Homo sapiens: one gene and its partners. The protein of the gene in region 3 interacts with the protein of the main gene of each other region in a biochemical or structural test. Each region holds a gene or a part of one and is shown on either strand. Other genes may lie near its edges.

The links. The genes of interacting proteins can lie anywhere in the genome.
Region 1: the proteins of PINK1 (region 3) and CRLS1 form a complex in vitro, tested with the Homo sapiens proteins (one study listed by BioGRID).
Region 2: the proteins of PINK1 (region 3) and SIAH3 form a complex in vitro, tested with the Homo sapiens proteins (one study listed by BioGRID).
Region 4: the proteins of PINK1 (region 3) and TOMM70 form a complex in vitro, tested with the Homo sapiens proteins (one study listed by BioGRID).

The regions. Positions count from the first base shown.
Region 1 is NC_000020.11:6,032,710-6,037,736, reverse strand, and holds part of CRLS1 (cardiolipin synthase (CMP-forming)), read right to left. Parts: intron 3,274-5,027; coding exon 3,182-3,273; intron 664-3,181; coding exon 579-663; 3' UTR 1-578. UniProt on the Homo sapiens protein: Catalyzes the synthesis of cardiolipin (CL) (diphosphatidylglycerol) by specifically transferring a phosphatidyl group from CDP-diacylglycerol to phosphatidylglycerol (PG).
Region 2 is NC_000013.11:45,841,140-45,846,166, forward strand, and holds part of SIAH3 (seven in absentia homolog 3), read right to left. Parts: intron 1-5,027. UniProt on the Homo sapiens protein: Negative regulator of PRKN translocation to damaged mitochondria. Acts probably by destabilizing PINK1 protein, hence inhibiting PRKN targeting to dysfunctional depolarized mitochondria.
Region 3 is NC_000001.11:20,631,991-20,636,257, reverse strand, and holds the start of PINK1 (serine/threonine-protein kinase PINK1, mitochondrial precursor), read right to left. Parts: upstream 2,801-4,267; 5' UTR 2,710-2,800; coding exon 2,323-2,709; intron 1-2,322. UniProt on the Homo sapiens protein: Serine/threonine-protein kinase which acts as a sensor of mitochondrial damage and protects against mitochondrial dysfunction during cellular stress.
Region 4 is NC_000003.12:100,369,476-100,374,502, forward strand, and holds part of TOMM70 (mitochondrial import receptor subunit TOM70), read right to left. Parts: intron 4,171-5,027; coding exon 4,063-4,170; intron 3,248-4,062; coding exon 3,131-3,247; intron 1-3,130. UniProt on the Homo sapiens protein: Acts as a receptor of the preprotein translocase complex of the outer mitochondrial membrane (TOM complex). Recognizes and mediates the translocation of mitochondrial preproteins from the cytosol into the mitochondria in a chaperone dependent manner.

The DNA of each region.
Region 1 (5,027 bases), on a different chromosome or scaffold from region 3:
TTCTGTATGATTATTATCTTAAAAAGTTACCGCATTTTTAATCTCTTTTATAACTTTACTTCATCTACAACTAACTTCACTTTCATTATCCCAAATGATCAGGTATTAATTACATGAACTGTTAATGTATACACAGACCTAAAAATCAAACAAAAATGTATTGCCCAGTTGTGTAGGATATATATTTGAACCCCATGACATTTCCTAGTGCTTTGTGAGCAATCCAAATTTCACTTAAAAGAGAGGTGTCAATTCTGCCCATGCTCTGGACTATGTTTTTAAAAAACATACAAAAAAGACTGACAATAATTGATCTCTTATAAATTAATCAAGAAACCTAAGATTAAAAATTCTAAATTACAATTTTATTTGTATTTAAAAATACATTGGAAATTCTGCATATTCCCATGATCAACCTTATTTTCAATGCACATTACTTAAATTTTGATGACACAGTTGATTCTGACAAGTCCTTTTTCAAGCTGAACACCAAAATAGGGAAACTCCTGTACATTTCCATGGGCCCTGTTCCCATTGATGTATACTGCTTCCTTACTAACAGTGAGGGATGACTTTCATCAGTCTTTTATCACCTGAACAGTCTTCCGGCCATAATGATAGTAACTATAAGCTGATGCAGCTGTGGTGAAAGCTGTAAAACACCTTTTATGGAAGAAAAGAAATAAAATGTAGTTGTCAAGTCTAAAAAATAGTAGCAACGGGAATCATAATGAATACATGCAATGAATTTAAAATGTAAAAATGAATTTAAAAAGTAAAAAGGGCTCTGTGGTGTAATTTTTCTTAACTACAAGAGTCTAAATACACTGCTTTTCTTTAAGAGTTCATTTTAATTAGTAACGTCAAACAAAATTATTCTAGATAATGAGCCCTACAAATTACTACTACTAGCAACTGTCATTTTTTACTCGGGCATCCTCTAGGTGTCTTACATTCTCATTTTATTCTTACAACGAACTCATCCTCCAGAAGGACTTCATCCTCCAGAAGGACTCATCCTCCAGAAGGACTCATCCTCCAAAGGACTTCTCCAGAAGGGGGAAATGGAAGACCCGGGTAACTTGCTCAGGGCTTATCACAGAACTATGTTTGAGCCTGACTTCGTTTGAACTCTAAAGCCCACATGCTCTTTCTACTGCCCCATGCTTCTCAGGGTACCAGACTCTTATTTCCTGCAGCTTTTGAGAATTCTAAAGATACCTGAGTCATTTTAAATAAATTTCAGCTTTCTTTACCAAACTACCCTTAACCGGATTCTCCTTGAAATGACATCACCTGACACCCATGGCATGCTGCATGCCCACAGCTAGATTACTTTTTAGTGCGCCCACGCACTTCTGCTTTTATTAGGTGAGGCAGAATCAAGATTCCCTTTTGTTGGATCTTGAACCTGTTCATGCCACTTTGATATTCTAAATTCATACATAAACCAATGAAATATATGTGTTAGAAAAATTGCTATTTCTAGCTGGACGCAGTGGCTCATGACTATAATCCTACCACTTTGGCAGGCCGAGGCAGGAGGATTGTTTGAGGCCAAGAGTTTGAGACCAGCCTGGGCAACATAGTGAGACCCTGTTTCTACAAAAAATAATAATACAAAAAATTAGTGGCTGGGCACAGTGGCTCACACCTGTAATCCCAGCACTTTGAGAGGCTGAGGCGGGTGGATCAACTGAGGCCAGGAGTTCGAGACCAGCCTGACCAACAAGGTGAAATCCCGCCTTTACTAAAAATACAAAAATTGGCCAGGTATGGTGGTGGGCGCCTGTAATCCCAGCTACTCAGGAGGCTGAGGCAGGAGAATCGCTTGAACCCGGGTGGTAGAGGTTGCAGTGAGCTGAGATCAGGCCATTGCACTCCAGCCTGGGCAACAGAGCGAGACTCTGTCTCAAAAATAAATAAATTAATTAATTAAAAAAAAATAGCCAGGTGTGGTGGTGGCACATGCCTGTAATCCCAGCTACTCAGGAGGCTGAAGCTGAAGGATCGCTTGAGGCCAGGAATTCAAGGTTACAGTGAGCTATGATCATGCCACTGTACTACAGGCTGGGTGACAGAGCAAGACCCTGTCTCCAAAAAAATAAAATAAAAATTTTTTTAATTGCTATTTCTGAAAACTACATTGGATGCTTTAGAAAGACTCAATAAAGGTGACTTGATTAAAAAAAAAATACTGTCTCTCTCTTCATGGGTTCCTAGGGGAAAAAAATACTGTCAAAATAAATAGACAAGATGATTGTGAAAAGACTAGGGAAAATATCTAAACAGTTCTTAGACTGCTTTGCAAATGTTTTAAGTTCTTGCATCACCTTAAAGAAGTAAAAAATGAAAATCAGAGAGGTTTGTATTATGGATGTAGTTTATCCGAGAAAGAAAAAACTCCCACTGATGGACCTACACTCAAAAAGCCTTCATCCTATATCAGAAGGTATAAGATGAACTGGGATAAATGTACACTTAAATATTTTTAATTAAAATAAAAAGTTTAGAGTAGTTGTCATTTTTTAAAAGACTGCCTGGCTTAACTGACTGTGATTAGCCACCACTTTCTGGTCCAGACTGTACCAAGCAAGATAATTTTAATTCTAGTTAAAATTGTGCCAAAATATAATACTCCAATGTCAATGTGACTATTTTGAACTCTGAAAGCGTGAATTTGACACACTTTTAAGATGATAAATAAGCAATTAGTATAATAAAATTCAAACTCCTCTCTCCAGTTTTCCCTCCTACAACACCCTTTTCAACAGGCTGGACTCAGCTTCCCTACCCTCTCTCCTACACTCTATCTCTTGGCTTAGGCCCTGTCTTTCACCTAGTGGTCTCCTCTCAGTCTCTTCCTACACACAATCCACTTCATGCAACAAATGCCACTTCCTTCCTGAAACTGTCCCTCTTCTTCCTACGAAGTTATCTCTTCCTCCAAAACCCTTAACACATTATCAGTACCTTTTATCCCTTTTAATTTGTATGAAAGCTAACTTCTCCATCTCATACTTGGCAGGAAGCGTCTTAACAATGGTATCAATCACCAAATATAGCCACAGCTTTACCCAGTCAGTGCTCAACAAATGCTGTAAGAACAAGGTCATTCTAGGGCTATCACCATAAGTCATTCTGTTGACATTCTAAGAGAGTGATTCTAAATTTAGCTTACCATAGTATCTGAAGATAAATGCTGTCAGCATAGTTGAAAACTGGAGCTGCCAAAGAAGCTGCCACCAAGATTAACTGGACTGCTGTATTCACCTAAATAAAAAAAGAAAAAGTTCTAAGTGAATAGTGCCAACTGGATCCTATTTCAAGCTTTCAAGACAAAAGCACAGCCCATCACACTATAACATGACATACCCTCAGCATGCTTGCTGTTCATCTACACTATCCCTGCCCAATAAGCTTGCATTCACAGGTGAGCACACACAAAAGGGTCAGCTTCACTAACTGACCCATCTGTCTGCACAGCTGCCCTTAAGAGCAAGAGTAATGACAACTGTCAGAAAATACCACTACCTTGAATTCTCACAGCAACTCAAAAATGTTACAAAATTATTTGCCTTTTTTCCAACTGCCCATTAAAATGGAATACGAAAATAACTAAGCTACCTCTTCATGGGTAAAAGGGTAATGAGTTAGGTGACTTGCCTGCAGTCACAGCAGACAACAGAACCAAAGCTGGAACCTAGATTTCCTGGGGCCTTATCCGATGCTCCTTTCTTGCCTACCTGTCAAACCTTGTGAGGTTAGAAAATTAAAAGGCACTCATCTCAGGACAGATGCAGTGGTTCATGCCTGCAATCCCAACACTTTGGGAGGCTGAGGCAGAAGGACTACTTGAGCCCAGGAGTTTGAAACCAGCTAGTTAAAAACCAGCCAAGCATGGTGGTGTGCACCTGTACTCTCAGCTACTTGGGGGGCTGAGGTGGTAGGATATTTTGAGCCTGGGAAGTCAAGGCTGCAGTGAGCTATGATTGCGCCACTGCACTCAAGGCTGGGCAGACAGCGCAAGACCCCGTTTCAAAGAAAAAGCACTCATCTCCATAAAAGAACCTCTCTCAAGGAGGAAATGAGTAGGCTTCCCTACACTAAAAGACAGCACTGGGGAGAAAAGAAAATAGAACAAGAAATACACTGGAGACTCCCTCTATCATCATGAGAAGCACTCCATGGAAGAGTCTGCAAAGTATGAAAAAGCGAGTGAAGCAGACGAGCACCTCTGTTCTATCACCCGTTCTGCAGCCAAATGAGAAGGATTCTACTTCATTTAAAAAATAAATAATAGCCAGGCGCAGTGGCTCACGCCTGTAAGCCCAGCACTTTGGGAGGCCGAGATGGGTGGATCACCTGAGGTCAGGAGTTTGAGACCAGTCTGACCAACATGGTGAAACCCCGTCTCTACTAAAAAATACAAAAAAAAAATTAGCTGGGCGTGGTGGCGCATGCCTGTAATCTCAGCTACTTGGGAGACTGAGGCAGGAGAATCGCTTGAACCCGGGAGGAGGAGGTTGCAGTGAGCCAAGATCGCGTCATTGCACTCCAGCCTGGGCAACAAGAGCAAAAATTCATCTATAAAAAATAATAAAATAAAATAAAATTAAATTAAATTAAAATAAAATAAAATATAAAATATAAAATAAAATAAAATGTAAATTTTATCCTAAGGGCTTCCTATAAGGGTTTAAGGCACTTGTCCCCGTACCTCTTTAAGCACTTTCCATGTAACGCTACACTCAAATTGCCATACAATATAAACACAAGTCACTTGAAGCCAAACAAACAAACAAACAAAAAACAACAAAAAAACCCCAAACCCTATGCATGTAGATGAAAGTCCACCCCAGGGAGTTCTGTATAGAAGCAACTACCCTTCTCTCCCAAAAATGATGGGCATTCTTAACCTGTTAAATCCTTGACATTAAAGATGGGACAAAAGAATGAACTGAGAAAACTTATCAAAGCTACTAGAAAAACAAATATGGCTTGAGAGGTAGACTGGCATATACTTA
Region 2 (5,027 bases), on a different chromosome or scaffold from region 3:
ACACAGAGGGAACCCAGGGTTCCAAGTGGCCACCTGCCCTGGACTCCCTGTCACATCTTGGCAGAGTCGTAGCTGTTAGATCCGAGAGGCCATGAAGTCTGGTTATGAAGCTGGCAGGTGGCTAGGCTTGCTGGCCAGTCTCTTGTAAAATCTGTGTTATTGATCTACATTTGGTTTCATCTCTATGGGGCCTTCCTAATGCCAAGCTAACCCTGCCCTCCCTCTCCAAGGGGCTGCAGTGGCCCATCTCTTCTGCAGAGGATCCTGTCCTTTTTGTCCTGGGGAGCCAGGGCCTACCGTTTCCTTTCTCAGGCTACTTGCTCCATGCTGTTTCCAGTGCTGTGCCACAGCTGGAAACAGCCCTGCAATGAGCAGTGCCCTCCTTATCATAGATTCTTGATTAAAAATACATTAAAGGACCAAGAAATGATTACAAGATATAGCAACTTGCAAGTAAAACTGACACTTCCAGTTAGACCACAATTCTAAATAATCCACAAAGAACCTGTTCTTCTGGTAAAAACATTGTGTTTGTTTCTCATCTGTTTTCTGATGGTGCCATAGTCAAGATGAATATGTAGCCTTTGGATCCATCCTGCTGTTTGAAGGTCTGGGATAATGGCTGCAAGGGTTTGGTGACTTCATTTGGAGCCTCATCCCTGTCCCTCACTATATATTTGTGCCAGCGCTAGAGACACAAGGAACATTTGCCTTTTTAATGCCCCGCTGTTGTCCAGCTGGTTTATACCTTGGCAAGGTCCTGAGAACAAGACCCCTCTGGGAAGAGGTCCAACACTGCCATGGGGACATATTAGAGAGGCAATGTCCTTAACCAAAGTACCATCCCCAGCTCTGCTGGAGCCTCATCAGTGGGAACCTTGGGCAAGTCACTTCATCCCCTTGAGCCACATTTGTTAGACCGGCTCCTTAAACTAGGACATTATTCTGGCTCTCAGCTTAAACACTGTGTGCTTCAAAAGCATGGTCCTCAGCAGGTATGTCCTTTTACTGCTCTACCTTCCCCCTTCCCTCCAACATACAGTTGGAGTAAAAGTTTGGTCACCCAAACTTAGGCAAAGGAACTTGGGTCACATTTTGTGCATCAGGTAACATCTCTGCAGGACTCACCTACTAGTAATGATGATAACTACAATTGATGGAGTAATTATAATATGCCAGGTGCTGTGCTGAACACTTTATATAAATCATATGTATATTTTTTGAGACAGGGTCTTGCTCTGCTACCCAGGCTGGAGTGCAGTGGTGCAGTCATGGCTCACCACAGCCTGGACCTCCTGGGCTCAAGCGATCATCCCACCTCAGCCCCTCCACCCTGAATAGCTGACACTACAGGTGTGGGCCACCATGCTTTGCTAATATTTATATTTTTGGAGACACGAGGTCTCACTATGTTGCCCAGGCTGGTCTCGAACCCCTGGGCTCAAGAATCCTTCTGCCTCAGCCTCCCAAACTGCTGGGATTATAGGCGTGAACCACCGTGCCTGGCCTGTACATCGTATTATTTAATCTTTACAACAACCATTTTATAGAGGAGAGCATGCAGACTCTGGGAGGCCAAAGATATTATCCAAGGAATGCAACATTGGATTCAAACCCAGATCTGACTCCAAAACTCATACCTTAAGTCCTCAACTAAAACATTTCTCTTCTTTCCCAACACCACTTTCCCCACTTAACTCTTTCCTGAAGCTGGTTGGTTACAGACTGGGTGGGGAAGAAGGGTCTTGTTTATCTCTATTTGTTCTTCCACTGTGCTGGGGACCAGTATTCCGCACCCACTGGGCTTCGCATCCTGTGATCTTCTATTCAGAGTCCACTCAGGGCCCACACAGGGGAGCATCTCAGAATTGCCATTATTTCTCTCTCTCTCTCTCTGTGTGTGTGTGTGTGTGTGTGTGTGTAGAAACTCAGGTTGGAGTGTAGGCAACTCAGGCCTAGGGCTTAGCTCATTCATGTTTAATTTTCTGATGACAGTGGGATCTAGGAGTTCTGTCTTGCCCTTCCTCGATTCCAGAGGCTGCAGCCTAGACTGAGCATCATCCCCCTTCTCATCCATGCCGGGCTCAGAGGAAAGCTGTGTCCTCAAGGTGCAACGAACTGCAGGGCAGAGAGAAAATGTACAACCTCACAGGGACATGCAGTTTCTGCCTCCATCTCTGTCTCTACCCTGCTGAATCTCAGAGTGGTGTCATCGAGCCTGCAGATATATACTCTTCGAATCAGATACCCCTCACAGAGCCACCTACCCACGTGCTTACTCAAGCCTCTGCTAATGAAAAGAAGTAATGCATAAGTCATGAGGGGCAAGTTTTCAGGATGAGCAGAGAAGGGGATTTATCTGCATGGCTCCTGGCTCTGTGAATGACAGGTCCCAGCTCGTTCAGCTCTTGTCCCACTGCAGGCATGAGTGTCTTCCTGAGACCCAGCCTGTCTTCCAGGCTCAGAGCCCAGTGGGGTTCCGTGCTTTCTTTGAAGCTAAACATTAAGGACAAATCCGACTTTCACATGAGGCAAAAAATTGTTCTATTCACAATTCTCTTCAAGGCCAAAGATAACTCACAAAATACCAAGAAACAGCAAGCACTAAAGCTTGCAGAGAGGAAGGGAAGGCGGAGAAAGACAGCCAGGTGGGGAGTGTGGGGAGTCAAAGCCAGCTTTGAGTAGCTGTTGTCGTCATAATGACCATGCTAACAATTGGTGCCGGTCATAATCCCAAAAGATGCAGTCCCAAACATCATAATCCTGAAAGTTGAATTCCCCAAAGATCAAAATTCCTAAAGTCTAAAACCCTGAAAATCTCATTCCCAAAAGATTAAAATCCCAAATGTTAAAATTCTGAAAGTCAAAATCTGGAGAAAGGATTAGTACATTTAGGTTGTGCGCAGGATATCTGCACCATGTTAGTTGTATCATGTTAGGCAGAACTATTACCTTGTTATTGTCTTATGTGGAAATGAAGTATGATTTAAAGAGATGCGTATGGGTGCTAAGTTGTGGATTGTGAACTAAAATTTAGGTGTCAAGTTGACTGAATTTAAAAATACCTGGAAATCTGGTAAAGCATTATGTCGGATGTTTCTGTGAGGATGTTTCCAGAGGAGGTTAGTGTGTGAGTATGAGTGGGTTAGCTGAGGAAAAGCTGCCCTCAGTGTTGGTGGGCACCATCTCATTGGCCAATGGCTGGGAGAAACAAATACAGAAAGCAAATTGATCTCTCTCTGAGATCCGGGACAGATCTCTTCTGCTGCCTTGGACATCAGAACCCCAAGCTCACCAGCCTTTGGACTCCAGGACTTACACCAGCACCCACATTTAAATGAGAGTTAACCATTGGCTTCCCTGGTTCTAAGGCCTTCGGACTTGGAGCGAGACATGCTACTGGCATCCCAGGGTCTCTAGCTTGCAGATGGGCATGCCATGGGACTACTAAGCCGTCATAATCGTGTGAGCCAATTTTCCTAATAAATCCCCTCTCATATATCCATATACATACATATCTTATTGGTTCTAGCTCTCTGGAGAACCCTGACTAATACATATTTGGTACTGAGGAAGCCGAATATCATTCATTCTTATGCATTCCTTACAACACATTGGAAGAGATCTGTGAAACTGATCCCTCACAAAAATGCTGTGATAAGTTAAGTGTATGAAACTACTTATTGGTGAAAGATAAAAGTTTAAAAGCTAATTATACTGGTGCTGTGTTAGCAGAAAATTACTTAATTGCAATGGCCCAGCAACAACCAAACTTTCAAATGGACAGCATACACTTAGAAAATTTGTAGACCACAACCACTCTCCAAATACAAGTGCAACGACTGTTTCGAAGATTATAGAAGAAGTGAAAATGCAGGTGAAAGATACAAAAAATCTCCCCTGCCAAATTATTTAATCATGTACTACTTCTGCCCTTTCACACATAGTGCCAATATACTATGCTATATATTTAATCTTCGTATTGTCTCCAATAATAGATGTATACATTGTGTAGAGACTTTCAGAGAGTTCTCATTTGTTTTATGCATTTTTTTTTTTTTTTGCAAATTTGACTCCAGGAAGGTGCATTATCACAATGTTGACTTTGTGTGTATGCATTGTGCGTGTGTTAAAAACGCTGAAACTTCCTCAGTAAATAAAGAGATGTCCTTTCTGTACATCTGCATTTGTGAAAGGTACAATTTCTTGAGATCTCGGCGGTTTGGGTGACTGCATATGCAATGGTGACTCGCTGGTTTTTGAGCTGTCCATCAAAAGATTTAAGTTGTCCATCACGGTGTTTCAGATGGCCACAGTTATAAAGCTGGGTGCACACAATTAGTAATCATAGTAATACGCGTTTATACATTTCCCTTTTGATCTATTTCTTTGTGAATATAGTTTGTCTGCTTATAACTTATCCCCATGCTACAGTTGTTAGTATATCTGAGTGTTTATGCTTGCAAAAATATGTATGTTACTATTGCCTCTTTTATTGTGTTAAGTGGCCTGTAAAACACTCTGTTGTGTTTTGTATGTTTCTCTTAAAAATGTAAATAAAGGTCTTAAAATTTTTAAATTTTTTTTCCATAATTATATTTTTGGGACTTTCATCTTTCCCAATTTCAACATTCAGGATTGTGCCTTTCAAAATTATGGCCCAAACTCATAGAAGGGGTGAGGGAGTGAGGAAGGATGATGACTTAGAAGCTCTAATTTGTGAAGAAAATGTGGCTGTGGTAAAGGGGAGATGGTAGAGTGTGTGGTACAGCCCAGGGTGTCATGCTGCTGGCCCCAGGAGGAGAGATAGGGTACAGGAAGGGGACCCTTGCAAGTTTTCGCTCCCACACCATGTATCTGGAGGAAGGGACATTAACTTAGCATAATTTGAAGGCAACCTGGGGCAGTGTAGGAATATAGATCTGATGTTAGAAGACCTAACTTCTTTTTTTTTTTTTTTTTTTTTTGAGACGGAGTTTCGCTCTTGTTGCCCAGGCTGGAGTACAGTGGTGTGATCTCAGCTCACT
Region 3 (4,267 bases):
ACATATTATAGTATACACAACATATATACACATATACATATATATACACATTATATATATATTTTTATAATATAAATTTTTAGAGCTTGCTACTAGCACACTCCTGCTAGTTGCCCAGGATGGGGTGCAGTGTTGCAACTACAGCTCACTGCAGCCTCAAACTCCTGGGCTCAAGCAATCCACCCACCTCAGCCTCCTAAGTAGCTGGGACTATCGGCATGTGCCACCATGCCTAGCTAACTTTTTAATATTTTGTGGGAACAAGGTCTCACTATGTTGTCCCAGCTGGTCTTCAACTCCTGGGCTCAAGAGATTCTCTCACCTTGGCCTCCCAAAGCACCAGGATTATAGGCATGAGTCACCATGCCTGGCTTCAGAATTTTTTATTTTTTTATTTTTTATTTTTTTTGAGACGGAGTCTCACTCTGTCCTCTAGGCTGGAGTGCAGTGGCGCGATCTTGGCTCACTGCAAGCCCTGCCTCCCGGGTTCACGCCATTCTCCTGCCTCAGCCTCCCGAGTAGCTGGGACTACAGGCGCCTGCCACCATGCCTGGCTAATTTTTTTGTATTTTTAGTAGAGGCGGGGTTTCACCATGTTAGCCAGGATGGTCTCGATCTCCTGACCTCATGATCCGCCCGCCTTGGCCTCCCAAAGTGCTGAGATTACAGGCATGAGCCACCCCGCCCGGCCCAGAATTTTTTAAATGTGAAATTAATTCCAGCAAAAGTAGCCAGTGAAAACAACTTTTTCTCCCCCCAGTCAGAGTCTTGCTCTGTCACCCAGGCTGGAGTGCAGTGGCGTGATCTCAGCTCACTGCAACCTCCGCCTCCCGGGTTCAAGGAATTCTCCTGCCTCAGTCTCCCAAGTAGCTGGGATTACAGGCGCCCACCACTGCGCCCGGGTAATTTTTGTATTTTTAGTAGAGACAGGGTTCCACCATGTTGGCCAGGCTGGTCTCAAACTCCTGACCTCGTGATCCGCCCGCCTCAGCCTCCCAAAGTGCTGGGATTACAGGCATGAGCCACAGTGCCTGACCAAAAAAAATTTTTTTAATGTGAAATTAATTGATAACTAATAACATTTTCAGGCATAGGAGGGTGAAGTGTGCGAAGAAGGTGTGTGTGAATGGTAAGTTTAGGAGGATCAATCTCCTCAGTTAAAAAAGCCTCTTTAGTTTTAAGCAGGATTAGTCAAATTTCCCATCCTTAGCTTCTGCCAGTTAAGCTGTGGCAAAAGACAAGGTCAGGGGCTGGGGACTAGGCCAGATGTCACCTGTCACCCCAAACTGGCCAGAGCTCAAACATGAGACAGTGGTGATGAGCAATAAGAACTGGGATGGAAACCAGGAAACCCAGGAGCCACTGCTTGGCCCTAACAGCTGTGTCCTTGGGCAAGTCACTCCCTCTTCCACCACCTCAGCCCTAACCTGTAAAATGCAGGGGCTATGCTAATTTAGTGAGTGGTTCTACACCCCCAGGAAGAAGAGTGACCTCCCTGGAAGAAGATGGAATTCTGCCAGCGGCCAGGCTTCAAACCTGAACTGCACCGCTGGCTCCTCCCTGGCTCTCCAGCCTGCCCGCCTACTCTGCGGCTTTTAAGACTTTGCCAATCCCCATAGGGAGCCAGGTCCTCAAAATAAACCTGCCTCTATATAGACACATCCTATTGATTCCATTTGGAGAACCCTAATACAGACTTTGGTTGGGCAAAAAGAGAAGTCTTGTGCTATTTTAAGCATTAAAAAACCCTAAGAACCCTTGTGTATCCAGTCAGCAGGGATAACTCTACACAGGTAACTAAAATGTTAGGACTGTTTTTCTCGCCGTTCATAGTTTTTACTGCGGTTTCAGCTCTGTCACTACTAATCCTTTGGTTAAACGGCGGAGGCAGCCTGGCTCAGTGGTTAAGGGCACTGCATTTTATTAGCTGTGTGACTTCGAGCAAGTCCCTTCACCTGAGGACTTTCCTTCTCCATAAATTAGGGACGGCAACTACCTCAAAGGGATAGGAATGTTATGATTTAGTTGTCCGTACATTTTAGAAAATTTACACAAAGCCTTTTGCTGTGCTGCGACAGGAGCTGTAATCGGCAACATGTCTTCATTTGAGGAAGGGAAACATTAAAACAAATGGGAGGTGCTGGCTTTATTTATAGCAGCCGATCAGTAATGGTGAAATAGATGAGCTTTAAGGACCCTCGCCTCGGCCCTCGATCTGCTCAGAGCCCCGCCTCCACACCTAGCCCCGCCCCCACCCAGCTGAGGACCCGCCCCCGCGCTTAGCTCCGTCCTCCGCTCGGCTTAGGACCCGGCCCCGCTCACCTGGATCTCCTGACAGGCCGAGACCGCCCGCCGGCTCTCCGCCTGTTTTTCCTCGATGAGGCCCAGCCCTAGCCCGAAGGCCAGAAAGACTGCCCGGCCGCAAGGGCCCGCGCAGCCCCAGGCCCGCACCACGAACTGCCGCTGCAACCGCGCCGCCAGCCCGGCCACCGACTGGCGGAAGAAGCGGAGACGGTTAGGGAGCCCGAGCCCGACCCTGCGAGGCTCCGCGCCCGGTCCTGCGGCCCAGCCTGGACGCTCCCCGCGGACACAGCCCGCCGCCGGGCCCGGCCGCCCCAAGCCGTAGGCCCGGCCGGGCTTGCCCGTGAAGCGCAGCAGCAGCGCTCGACCCAGCTGCAGGCCGCGGCCCAGCGCCTGTCGCACCGCCATGGTGGCGCCGCGGCCCGGTGCCCCCGCAGCCGCCGCTGCCGCCACCACCGGCGTCCCCCGCCGGTCACAACAAACTTGGGGCGGTGCCTCTGCGCAGGCGCAGGCGCTGGTGGGCGGGGCCGGCCCCCGCGGCAGTTCCCCGACTCGGCGCGTGGGGGCGCTATGCTGGTACTGGCGCCTCTAGCAGTGACTTTCCCTTTGCACTTTGGACCCACGTGGAGGGCTTGCCGGTTCAGGCAGGTCCTGAATGTGAACATCACTGGTCCTGGGCAAAATCGAGAAGTCGAGAAGGGAAACTGATATTTTTTGCCAACCATGGTGCCAGACCCTTTACGTCTTTTAATTTATTTAACAGCTCCACCAACAAGATAAAAATGCCGTTTTTATAGATAAGAAAACCGAGGCATAGTAAGGGGCAGCATTCGAGGTCTTGTGAAGGTACCTAGCAGAGCTGAGCTACAGTTCACATTGTCCTAACTGTTGAATGCTTGCCCTCCTCAATGCCGTTAGGCTGCTGTATGTGTCCACAGTCTCAGGGGTTTTGAAGACCCCAAGACAAATCTCACCCAAAAGACACAATTTATGAATGAGTGTGCTGAGGTCCCAAGATAGCAGCTTGCCCAAAGCCACACCGTTTGTTTAATGGCATAGGCCTGCTCACCACAGAACACACACACGCACGACACGCACATTACTGAAACAGTTTGCTGTCTCCTGGCCAGGGGTCCACCCCATAGCCAAGTAAGCCCAGGGGACAGAACTCTTCAGACAAAAAATCCCTTCTTCAGCAGCAGCTCCTATCTACATGACCTTTGACTTCATATTTAAGGAGAAAGGGATTTATGAACAGAAGCCATAGTCTCTGGCTTCAGCGGCAGGGAGACAAGATGGTGGATCCCCATGCCATTACCCCCAAGACCCAGGGCCTATATGCTATAGGAAAGGAATGTGACGGACATTTGAAGTCAGTCCCCCAGGGAAAGGCAAGAATGCTGTGTGAATCTGCCTAAGGGCAGGATTTATGGTAAGTACATACTTTTACACAAGGAACAATAGATAAACTGGAAATCTTAGAGGCCTTCCCTAAAAGCTGGTTAATCAGAAGTCAACTTGGTTGGCCGGGTGTGGTAGCTCACAGCCTGTAATCCCAGCATTTTGGGAGACTGAGGCAGGTGGATCACTTGAGTCCGGAAGTTCATGACCAGCCTGGCCAACAAAACACCATCTCTACTAAAAATACAAAAACTAGCTGGGCGTGGTGGCACACGCCTGTAATCCCAGCTACTCAGGTGGCTAAGGCAGGAGAATCGCTTGAACCCAGGAGGTGGAAGTTGTAGTGAGCAAAGATCACACCACTGCACTCTATCCTGGGCGACAGAGTGAGACTCTGTCTCAAAACAAAACCAAAAAACCAACAAAACACATCAACTTGGTGGATTAGCATCCAAGACGGGGTTGCTTTAGCTTGCACTGTGTGTGTGTGTGCTGGTCTCTCTCATAATCTTCCTTAAGGGAGGAATTTTATGGTTCTTGTGATATCCAATCATATTTATTTGGG
Region 4 (5,027 bases), on a different chromosome or scaffold from region 3:
TATCATAATACAGCCCAAGGGAATTTTTTTTTTTTTTTTTTTGAGATAGAGTTTCATTCTTGTCACCCAGGCTGGGGTGTAGTGGCGCAATCTCTGTTTTCTGCAACCTCCGCCTCTTGGGTTCAAGTGATCCCCCTGCCTCAGCCTCCTGAGTAGCTGGGACTACAGGCGCCCAACACCTTGCCTGGCTAATTTTTGTATTTTTAGTAGAGATGGGGTTTCACCATGTTGGCCAGGTTGGTCTCGAACTCCTGACCTCAGGTGATCCACCCACCTCGGCCTCCCAAAGTTCTAGGATTACAGGAGTGAGCCACCGCACCTGGCCAGGGAATTATCTTAAGGGCAATATTCATTTGGAAGTATAAGTTAAGATGTATGTGTTAAATGTCTTCAGAGCTATTTGTTTAAAATTATTGATTTTTTAAAAAGCAGCTATAACTGCTTCAACTAATATATCTCCAAAAATAATTCCCTAATATTATCTATAATACCTAGCCCATATTCAGTTAACCCCGGTTATTTATAAGATGACTTTTAAGAAGTATGTGAGTCATTATATTTAGCTGTATGGCTCTTAGTCTTTTCATATCTAAAATAAGCCAACTTAAATATTTTAAAAATCGCTCTTAAAAATATCAAAGAAATGTAGCCAGCACATCTTCTTTATAATAAAAATCAGAAAGATATAGAAAGTAGAAATATTTTTATAGCTTCCATCATTGTGAGCATGGATGCCTTCCTGATATATTTTTCTATCTCTATTTACTTCCCTATTTGTTTTCTTTCACATGGTTGAGTTCATTTTGTATGCAATTCTCCCTTTAATAATAGGCAGTGCTGTATCTTGCTTTGTAACTTTAATGTATTTGTAACTTTTAATGGCTGCATAATATACCATTAAGTGAGTGTACCACAATTCTGCAAACATAATTCAATTTTCTGTTAACATTTAGGATTTTCCCCAATTGTTTGTCATAGTTAACAATAATGTAATAAATACTTATTTTGAAAACAAAAGCAGCAGCTATAATCAACTTTTTAAGACAAATCCCACGGCTGAAATGGAAGGCACAGTTCTGTGGATATCAGACTATGCTCAAGCTGTAACTTTGCGAGTTGGCCAGCATCTACGCCAAAGCTTTGAGGGCCAAAAAAGTTACACTAAGTATATATATATACACATACACATACACACACACGTACTGTATGCATATATAAAGTTACATATACTATATAGTGAAGCTAAAATTAGAAAACAGACCAAAGAAAAGAAATTTGAGTGCAAACTGACTGTAATAATGCTAATGCTGATGAGAAGACAGCTCATACAAACCAAACCTATCTTGAAGGCAGAATGGTAATAGGGAAATATGCTATTGGGAAAGTTCTGCAGAGGAGTTGTTCCCCAGTAGTGGTTCCTATTCGGTGGCCTTTGCTCTTCTAGATGCTTAGAGAAATCTGCACCAAAAAAGCCCTTCTGAATTCCATGACAATGATGAGGATGTTGCTGTCATTTCCTGGTTTGTTACTAATTATAAGGCATAAACTCAAGTGTACCCATTCATAGGATTAAAATGTACACTTTAATGTAGTTATATATAAGACCTACCTCTAAAGAACAGATCCAACACAAATCAATTTTCTCATAGTTCCACCCTCAATAAACCCTTAAAATCCTTGTGAAATTGTTCTTATAACCTGCCTACAGATACCATGAAGGAAATTAAAAACAAAATAAGCATCCTTAAGAATGGTTTAAGGAGAGGGGTCAACCAGCGATGGTATTTTTTTTTTTTTTTTTTTTTTTTGGAAATGGAGTCTCACTCTTGCCCAGGCTGGAGTGTGGTAGTGTGATCTCAGCTCACTGCAACCTCCGCCTCCTGGGTTCAAGCGATTCTCCTACCTCAGCCTCCCGAGTTGCTGGGATAACAGGTGTGCGCCAAACCACACCCAGCTAATTTTTGTATTTTTAGTAGAGATGGGGTTTCTCCATGCTGGCCAGGCTAGTCTCAAAACTCCTGGCTCAAGTGATCCGCCTGCCTCAGCCTCCCAAAGTGCTGGGATTGCAGGCAGGAGCCACCACACCCAGCCAGGGGATAGTAATTTGTTATCGTTTCCTATTTCTGTGCTGTGGGGAAAAACCCAACATGTCTTTTGTAATTAAAAAGAGAAAAAAAAAGAAAAATAAATTACATAGAGCAGCAGTCCCCAACACCTTCCCAGCACTTTTGGCACCACGGATTGGTTTTGTGGAAGACAATTTTTGCATGGATGGGGGTAGGAGGAGGAGGGATGGTTTTGGGATGAAACTGTTCCACCTCAGATCATCAGGCATGAGAATCTAATGCTGCTGCAGATTTGACAGTGACAGGAGGTGGAGCTCAGGTGGTGATGCTTGCCCAAGGCTCACCTGCTGTGCAGCCCCATTCCTAAGAGGCCACAAAGCAGCTGTACCCCTGATATAGAGTATTGAGATGGCTAGTTTATGTAGACACCAAAACCAATTTTCAGCTTTAAGAAAGAAAACTGAGTCATTCAGAGATCTTTTATTTGAGGGGAAAATGTATGACCGTCACTACAAGAAGCTAATCATTTTCATTTAAATGGATGATTTAAAACTAAGAAGTTTTCAAGAATTTCAGACTACAATAAAAAAATTCAGATTTAAATCCTGCTTTCCATAGCTTCAATCCTAAACCAAGAGAGTTTCAGGAATTTTAGATAAAGCAAAGATAAATTAAAATAAACCGTTACAACAACCTAGCCATATAAAAAGGCAGTGACCAGATAGAAAGAAAAGCCTTTCCGTGGATATTTTCTCCACCAATTGCATACGGTAAATTTTCCTAAGGTAATTACTTTTTGCAAAACCAATCCAAATGAAGACAGGAGGGAAATTCTCGCCTTAAGCTTCCCCATATTGAGTTTAGGGCCATGATTTCCAAATTGTGTAACAAAGGAGCCTCTTCTGAGGTGATTCGGGACCAACCAGGGGCCATGAGAATCAATCAGGAACAAAGCCACCTGCTTCCAAAGAAGCTGCAACCATGATAGCACTGTTTTCTGATTTCCATACTGAGATTTGGCATATGTATGCAGTTATTTTTAAAAAACCTGAAAAAACATTTACCTGGGCGTATAGTGCATAGCCTTCGGCACACCTTGGAAATTTCTTTATGACCTCTTCAAAACCTTTCATAGCTGCTTGGATTTGTGAAGAGTTGTTTCCCGTATATGCCTGGCGGTACTATAAAAAATCAAAACAGGCCTGTCAAATCAAGAACTCAAAAACTCATGGAATGTTAACATAAACACACAAAATTACATAAATATTTCCAAAAAAACAGGTGATTTGCTAACATAATCTGCAGCATCCAAAAGGGTTCCAAGTAGGTATCTCAGCAGCAGAGAGCCAAAGGTTATGTACAACTAGGACTCCATGGCCACTATACAATTTCAAGATGTTCAATACTGTAGAAGAGGGCATACTAATTTGTAAGAAGTGAACTTTGCAATAAATGAATTTTAAATCTAGTAAAATTTTTGTCATTTTCATTTATAATATATATTTGTGACATAATTTCTTCCTTTAAACTGAAAATTCTTTTACGACTCCAGCCATACAGCTAACTGGAAGTATCTTATTTTACTAGAAAAATTTTTACTTAAAAAAAAAAAAAAAACAACCTTTTGAGCTTTGTGTTTCTGAATATTAAGAAACAGTTCTATGAAGCAGGGGTGAGAGAGCAAGTTACATGGTGTCATGTTTACAGAGTGTTTCCTCAAAATGTTTTTGCTCTTTATATTGATTTATGATGAAGCAGGGAGACCAGTTCTGTTTAGGGAAGTATAAAATCAGGGACAAACATCTATCAAGATGAACCCAAACAAATGTCCAGAGAAATACAAGAGCTAGGTATCAATCAGCACCTTTTTTCCTCAGTAGTTATCCTTTGGGAAAGAAAGAAAAAGACGACTTTGTAGACAATGAGATACTCATTTTTGTTGACGCTGGAAAATAAAAGTGATGTTTAGGAAAATACAAAAGAAAGTAGTACCTACCAATGCAAAACATTTCTGTGCTTGTGCCAGAGCAGACTCAGGTCTTAACCTAATACATTCATCAAAATCTGCCACTGCTTCTTCAACTTGATCAAGGAGTATTTTCAGCTAAGAAAAAAATACGTAAATAAATGTAATTCAACTAGTCCAGTTAAGTATGTTCAGTGTCTCATCTCTATTATTACACCTCAGCATAATGCTGAGCATGTAGTAGTAATTCAATATATAATTACTTTCTAGAAACAGTGATTTAAAAATCTTGAAATTTAAAAGGCAAGATTCCAAAACATAAAAATGGTATCCAACTTATAGAAAGGACTACAAGCCAACCATTTCTGCCCTGCAATTCTGATCACTATTAAGCAAGAAACCCCTTCTTCTAGAAAACTAAACATCCTGTACATTCTAATATCAAAGCAGGTTAGACATCAGATAATTACCTTTCAAATTAATCTTCAGACACTACCAGTAAAGATCAAAATGTCAAGAATTTTAAGAGGTTATCTCAACACTTAACACCCTTCTGAAAGAAATACAGTCATGCATATTTACATTTCAATCAACAGACCACATATACAACAGTGGTCCCAAAAGATTGTAATACTGCATTTTTACTGTACCTTTTCTATGTTTAGATATGTTTTAGACACACAGATACTTACCATTGTGTTATAACTGCCTATAATATTTGGTATAGTAACATGCTATACACGTTTGTAGCTTAGGAGCAACAGGCTACAACATACAGCTTAGGTGTGTAGTAGGCTATACCATCTAGGTCTGTAGAAGTACACTCTATGATGTCCACACAACAAAATCGCCTAATAATGCACTTCCCTGGCAGGACACATGACCCTATTAGGTAAAATTCTCCATTAGAAAGAACTTCGGCTCTTCTGTTATTATTAATGCATAGCTCACACTTTATACCATAATGCATTCCAAGAAGCCATGTTAAGCTGATT